Homo sapiens: one gene and its partner. The protein of the gene in region 2 binds, or shares a complex with, the protein of the main gene of each other region. Each region holds a gene or a part of one and is shown on either strand. Other genes may lie near its edges.

Evidence for each region. The genes of interacting proteins can lie anywhere in the genome.
Region 1: PRPF8 (region 2) and TXNL4A share a complex: the UniProt entries of both Homo sapiens proteins name them as parts of the U4/U6-U5 tri-snRNP complex.

Annotation. Positions count from the first base shown.
Region 1 is NC_000018.10:79,974,953-79,978,601, forward strand, and holds part of TXNL4A (thioredoxin-like protein 4A), read right to left. Parts: intron 2,750-3,649; coding exon 2,646-2,749; intron 1,836-2,645; exon of another isoform or gene 1,766-1,835; intron 1-1,765. UniProt on the Homo sapiens protein: Plays a role in pre-mRNA splicing as component of the U5 snRNP and U4/U6-U5 tri-snRNP complexes that are involved in spliceosome assembly, and as component of the precatalytic spliceosome (spliceosome B complex).
Region 2 is NC_000017.11:1,657,253-1,660,901, reverse strand, and holds part of PRPF8 (pre-mRNA-processing-splicing factor 8), read left to right. Parts: intron 1-74; coding exon 75-204; intron 205-323; coding exon 324-470; intron 471-900; coding exon 901-1,061; intron 1,062-1,353; coding exon 1,354-1,545; intron 1,546-2,138; coding exon 2,139-2,376; intron 2,377-2,520; coding exon 2,521-2,649; intron 2,650-3,649. UniProt on the Homo sapiens protein: Plays a role in pre-mRNA splicing as core component of precatalytic, catalytic and postcatalytic spliceosomal complexes, both of the predominant U2-type spliceosome and the minor U12-type spliceosome.

The DNA of each region.
Region 1 (3,649 bases), on a different chromosome or scaffold from region 2:
GAAAGTATTCCCCGTGAAGTCTCTGGTTCAGGAGAGGCAAATCTGATCAGGGTCTGGAGCCCACCTCTGGCCGCCCTCTCATTCTCCATGCTGCAGGCAGGCCCTACATGCAGCATGCACCAAGCTCCTTCTACAATGACTGGGGGCTGCCCGTAGCACCCTCCCTGCAGCCCTATCTGACCTGGGTGTACTTCTTCGGTATTTATATCTCATAAACATCTGCCTCCTTTCACTTCTTCAGAACCCCCTGCTAATTTACTCAGCTGTTTCTATCAGACAACGTCCTATGAGAGTGGGAATCCTGTCTTATCTGACATTAGGCTCCACCACTAGACCACAAACCTGGTGGGGGCTCAAGATATATGTTTGGTGCATAAGTTAACTAAAGTACCGTTTGTCTTAAAATTCTAAATCACAGAAACAGCAGAAGGAAGTTTCATCTCCTTTTCTGAGTACAGCATCAGTCCTAAAAATATCAAACTACACTAAGTAGGCTGCTCCCGCCACCCAAGGCTGTTGCCTGCAGCCTCCTTGCCCCTCACAGCATCTCCAGCCCCAGGCTGGCCTCCACTGCACGCTGTGGGGGGCAGAGACCTAAGACGGCCCTCCCTGTTCTCACCTGAAGAATTCTGAGGGGCAAAATAGAAAAGGCCTCTATTGCCTCGAACAGGCTGTTAACAGAAATATGGACTTCAGGAACACCTGGTGTGGGCTTGGAAGGAAGTGAGGAGTGTGTTACTGGGAAACGGAGAAAAGGGGACCCCCGTTACAGAGTGGCCGAGGAACAGGGACACGGGGTCCGCAGTTATAGGAAGTCAGAGCTCAAAAGCAACACACTCGGGATATTTAGCTGCGGAAACTTCCAAGCAAAGTCTCGGAGGTGCTGCCTTCAAGAGAGGAAAGAGGCAAATTAGTGTAAGAACTGTTAACAAAAGGAATAAATTCTTTAGCCTCTCCGGATGGCCAAAGGGGCTGAAATTCAGAAATGGCTGCTGAACACACAGTAGAGAAAAGGATGAGGGTCAGCCACGCAACCTTTGCTGAAACCTAGGAAAGATGAAAAGTTCACAAGAAATGCAGGGTGCACCTCACAGATCTTCTCAACCTAACAGGAGGCACCTAGGAAGCCAAGGGCGTGTCCAGGGGAGCGTATCCCGACGCCCAGAACCACGGCAGTGCCTCACGCTTTGGCAGCCTGAGGCGGGAGGATGGCTCGAAGCCAGGAGTTCAAGCTTGCTGTGATGGTGCCACTGCACTCCACCCTGGGTGAGAGTGAGACTCCATCTCAATAAATAAATAAAACAAGGTCACTATCCTGGATTATTTGGGCAAGTCTAATCTTATCACAGTCCTCTAAAACCAGAGCATTTTCTCAGGCAGAACTTTTCAGGTCAGAGAACCTGTGTGAAAAGTTCTCAATGTGCCGGCATGCCAGTGCTGGCTTTGAGGGTAACTGGGTCTCTGGCAGCAGAGTGGCCTCAGGTAACAGCAGCAAGGAAGCAGATCTCAGACCCACCACCACGAAGAGCCAGACTCGGCCCACAACCCAAACAAGCCCCTCAAACACTCCAGATAAGCACCCAGCCCATGGTTCAGACCTTGTGAGACCCTGAGCAGGAATCCAGCGGGCCCTGCCTGGATGTCTGACTTACAGAACTGTGAGCTCAGAAAAGCGGGGTGATTTAAGCTGCTCAATGCGTGCTAATTTGTTACAAAGAATACAAAACTAACGCATACCCTATACAACCCACCTGACCTTCCTTACCGAGTAGGAGGCTCCACTTTTGGAGAATGGTCTAATGCTCATGTAGCTAATTCACCAACCTCTATGGTAACTAAACAAGTAAAAACAGCATCAGATGGTGATTTCTTTCCCCATTAAATTTCCATAATGAAATTTTTGAGCTGATAAAATAATCTTGTATTTATAAGCAAAGTAGTTCAGGTGTTCCTCTTGGATATAAAAAAGGACACCGAAGTTGATGATAACATATTTAATAAATTAGGTTTTTGATTTTTTTTTTTGAGACGGAGTTTTGCTCTTGTTGCCTAGGCTGGAGTGCAATGGCATGATCTCGGCTAACTGCAACCTCCACCTCCTGGGTACAAGTGATTCTCCTGCCTCAGCCTCCCAGTAGCTGGGATTACAGGTATGCACCACCACGCCCGGCTAATTTTGTATTTTTAGTAGAGACTCGGTTTCACCATCTTAGCCCAGCTGGTCTCGAACTCCTGACCTTGTGATCCACCCACCTCGGCCTCCCAAAGTGCTGGGATTACAGGCGCTTTGAGCCACTGTGCCCGGCCTAAATTTGTGATTTTACAACATTTTTGATGAACAGATTATAGTTCCAGGTATCTAAAATGTCAGTAACAACATCTTTCATTGAATTACACTTCACCTAGGTTTCCCCGCAAAGTTATTTCAAAAGGGTAATTTGTTACTGAGTAAATGCTAAAACTAGAATTGTTACTTTGAAAATTATTTCAAAGATTCACACTGATTGCCTGGTGATACAAACGATTTTGGGACATGACTGTACAACCAACTTCCTTCAAAATAAAATAATCTAAAGAGATCTTGATTACATTAAGCTTCCAAACTGACAATATTCAATTTCAGTAACAACTTTAAGATAACGTACCTGAAGAAAAACATGACAGTACATGGATCGTATAACTCATACATTTTGTTGAAGTCAGGCACTTCTGTAATATCCACAAGATAAATAACTGCAAAATTTTTAACCTAAAAGGAGATTAAAAAAAAAAACTGAAATAACAGAACACTTTGGCTTTCATTTTATAGAAGCACATTTATAAAAACAAAACCAAGAATTTGTGTGGATCAGGGCAATTTTTGTTTTGTTTTTTTGAGACAGGGTCTCACTCTGTCATCCTAGAGTGCAATGGTGCAATCAGCTCACTGCAGCCTCGACCTCCCAGGCTCAAGCTATCCTCCCACCTCAGCCTCCCAAAGTGCTGGGATTATAGGAGTGAGCCATCACTCCTGGCCAACGGGGCAATTTTCAAACTAATTCTTCAACATTTTTTCCCAGTGCAGCAAACACGCGGGAAGATCATGTGACACTACTGGGACCTTGGCCACCGGCTCCTTCCGCCTCACGCCACCGTTTCCCAGAATAGTTCAGGAATTGGCCGCTGGCTCCTTCCGCCTCACTTTACCATCTCCCAGAATCGCCCAGGAATTAAATTTCACTCAGGTAACAAGTTATCAAAGTCCTGCAGAAAACGTCCACAGACATATTATTTATGCTGATCTAGTAATCATCTGTATGAACCTTTACAAATAGTTACATGCATCTCACAACTGCTCTAAAATATACCTGTAGAATCCTGCCATCATTTCCCCGCAATTAGGTCTGAACACTTGCAAATATTAATAGTACCTCCAATAATACTGCATATAACACATTTTCTGTTATTTTTTCTTTAATTGCAAGTTTATCAGAGATTTAGAAAAGTCAGAAAAATAAAAAGAAAATAAGATCACCTCCAATCCCAACACCTAGGGGTGACTGCTGCTATCTTTTTTCCAGAGACAGGATCTGGTTCTGCTGCCCAGGCTGGAGTGCAGTGGCAAGATCTTGGCTCACTGCAACCTCTGCCTCCTGGGCTCAAGCGATCC
Region 2 (3,649 bases):
AGCCACCTCCAGGAGGTTAGCAGTGTGCTGGGAAATGGCAGGATATCACCTCACCTGCTTCTCTTGCTCCCCAGGGAGAAGGCCAGTGGCTTTGAGGAATCTATGAAGTGGAAGAAGCTAACTAATGCTCAGCGATCAGGACTGAACCAGATTCCCAATCGTAGATTCACCCTCTGGTGGTCCCCGACCATTAATCGAGCCAATGTGAGTGTGATTGACACTGGAGAGGGGAAGCTAAAGACAGTTGCTGCTTCTTGCCTTGGTTATGTCGTGAGCGCCCGAGTCTCTTGATCTCTAATGTCACATTGTCGTTTTCCTGGCAGGTATATGTAGGCTTTCAGGTGCAGCTAGACCTGACGGGTATCTTCATGCACGGCAAGATCCCCACGCTGAAGATCTCTCTCATCCAGATCTTCCGAGCTCACTTGTGGCAGAAGATCCATGAGAGCATTGTTATGGACTTATGTCAGGTGGGCTGGAATCGAGGGGAGAGGGTACTGTAGAGAGTCAGCTCAGGTGGAATTGAGGGGAGAGGGTACTGTACAGAGTCAGCTCAGGTGGAATCGAGGGGAGAGGGTACTGTACAGAGTCAGCTCAGGTGGAATCGTGGGGAGAGGGTACTGTAGAGAGTCAGCTCAGGTGGAATCGCAGGGAGAGGGTGCTGTACAGAGTCAGCTTAGGTGGAATCGCGGGGAGAGGGTGCTGTACAGAGTCAGCTCAGGTGGAATCGCGGGGAGAGCGTGCTGTACAGAGTCAGCTCAGCTTGCTCTTTTGCATATGGGAAATCCACCCTGGAAGCTCTGAGGATGAGACTCCTATTGCCTCATTATCTTATTGTACAAACTCTGATTTTAATTGGGCTTCCTTAACAAGTCTTAATCTCTCCATGTTTTCCTTCAGGTGTTTGACCAGGAACTTGATGCACTGGAAATTGAGACAGTACAAAAGGAGACAATCCATCCCCGAAAGTCATATAAGATGAACTCTTCCTGTGCAGATATCCTGCTCTTTGCCTCCTATAAGTGGAATGTCTCCCGGCCCTCATTGCTGGCTGACTCCAAGTAAGTGCCTCAGGACCCAGCCCTAGGCAGCCAGGACACTTTCGTTTTCCTGTTCTTCTAGCCCTGCAACTTTAGGAATTGTCCTGTCTGCCTTTGTTTCAAACTTGGAGCCAGTGCTACGCTTGGAGCCTGTCAACACCCTTAGTCAGATCTGCTGATTCTCTGGGGTCCTGCTGACCTGGAACAAGTTGGTGGAGTGGGTGGGATGGTTTTGGGATTTAAGTGGTTCTGGTTCTGGGGACATTGGTTATGCCCATGGTTTCTTAGAAGCTTGAACCCTCTTCATCCTCAGGGATGTGATGGACAGCACCACCACCCAGAAATACTGGATTGACATCCAGTTGCGCTGGGGGGACTATGATTCCCACGACATTGAGCGCTACGCCCGGGCCAAGTTCCTGGACTACACCACCGACAACATGAGTATCTACCCTTCGCCCACAGGTGTACTCATCGCCATTGACCTGGCCTATAACTTGCACAGGTGAGTTGAGGCTCAGGACCATGTATTTTCAGGCCAGGCGCAGTGGCTCACACCTGTAATCCCAGCACTTTGGGAGGCCGCGGTGGGCAGATTGTCTGAGCTCAGGAGTTTGAGACCAGTCTGGGCAACATGGTGAAACCCTGTCTCTACCAAAATACAAAAAATTAGCTGGGCGTGGTGGTCCACGCCTGTAGTCCCAGCTACTCAGAAGGTTGAGGTGGGAGAATTACTTGAACCCGGGAGGCGGAGCTTGCAGTGAACCGAGATTGCGCCACTGCACTCCAGCCTGGGCGACAGAGTGAGACTCCATCTCAAAGAAAAATAATAATAATAATAAATAAATAAATAATCCGTGTATTTTCCATTAGCTCCATACTTTAACGTAGTCATACTTTTTTACTTTACCTAAGTGAGAGGAAGTGGCCCATTCCTCCTATGGGTCACTGATTCTCTTCTCCAGCCTGTATGTACACATGAGCAGAGTGTTGTCAGCCTGGCGAACAGTCTTTCTTCCTCTGTAGAGTTGGCAGCTTGTCTTGTTTCTGGGGCTGTCATTCTCGTCTTAACTTTTCTTGACCCTTTTATCCTCACAGTGCCTATGGAAACTGGTTCCCAGGCAGCAAGCCTCTCATACAACAGGCCATGGCCAAGATCATGAAGGCAAACCCTGCCCTGTATGTGTTACGTGAACGGATCCGCAAGGGGCTACAGCTCTATTCATCTGAACCCACTGAGCCTTATTTGTCTTCTCAGAACTATGGTGAGCTCTTCTCCAACCAGATTATCTGGTTTGTGGATGACACCAACGTCTACAGAGTGACTATTCACAAGGTGAGTGTTAGCAGCAGTGTATAGGTGCGGGACTCTGTACATGGCTGTGGGAGAGTAATGGGCTAAGTGTGTACACATGCTGGGAAGAAGGCAGGATGGGGATGTGTTGTGTAGGCCATGCTAACGAATGCCGTCCTCCTCTAGACCTTTGAAGGGAACTTGACAACCAAGCCCATCAACGGAGCCATCTTCATCTTCAACCCACGCACAGGGCAGCTGTTCCTCAAGATAATCCACACGTCCGTGTGGGCGGGACAGAAGCGTTTGGGGCAGGTGAGCAGGTTTAAAGATGAAGAGGCTGTAGAACCATGTTGCCTCTTATTCTTGGGGTGGACTTGGTAATATTTACTGGTTTATTAGATGAAAGGCTGAGAACATCTCATTTGAACTTATCCCCAAAATACCTTGGGAAGTATTCTGTGGGAGGTCCAAGAGTGTATGAGGTGCTTCGTTCCCTTCCAGCTGGTCTGTTTCCTGAATTTCTAACCTTGAACAGGGCTATCAAAAATCATTTTTCCAAAGGCAACGCATACTCTTTTTTTTTTTTTTTTTTTTTAGCCGGAGTCTCGCTGTGTGGCCCAGGCTGGAGCACAGTGGCTCAATCTCGGTTCACTGCAAGCTCCGCCTCCCGGGTTCACGCCATTCTCCTGCCTTAGCCTCCCGAGTAGCTGGGACTACAGGCGCCCGCCACCACGCCTGGCTAATTTTTTTTGTATTTTTTAGTAGAGACAGGGTTTCAACGTGTTAGCCAGGATGGTCTCGATCTCCTGACTTTGTGATCTGCCTGCCTCTGCCTCTGCCTCCCAAAGTGCTCGGATTACAGGTGTGAGCCACTGCTCCTGGCCAGCAATGCATATTCTCTTTTTTTTTTTTTTTTTTTGAGACGGAGTCTTGCTCTGTTGCCCAGGCTGGAATGCAGTGGCCTGATTTCAGCTCACTGCAAGCTCCGCCTCCCAGGTTCACGCCATTCTCCTGCCTCAGCCTCCCGAGTAGCTGGGACTACAGGTGCCCGCCACCACGCCCGGCTAAATTTTTTGTATTTTTAGTAGAGACGGGGTTTCACCATGTTGGCCAGGATGGTCTCAATCTCCTGACCTCGTGATCCGCCCGCCTTGGCCTCTCAAAGTGCTGGGATTACAGGCTTGAGCCACCGTGCCCGGCCCAGCAACGCATATTCTTGAAACATCCACTTTGACCAAATCTCTTCTCTACCTCACAACTCTTGCTGAATTAACTCTTCTTTAGCTTCCTAGACGTTCAACATCTGGCTGGG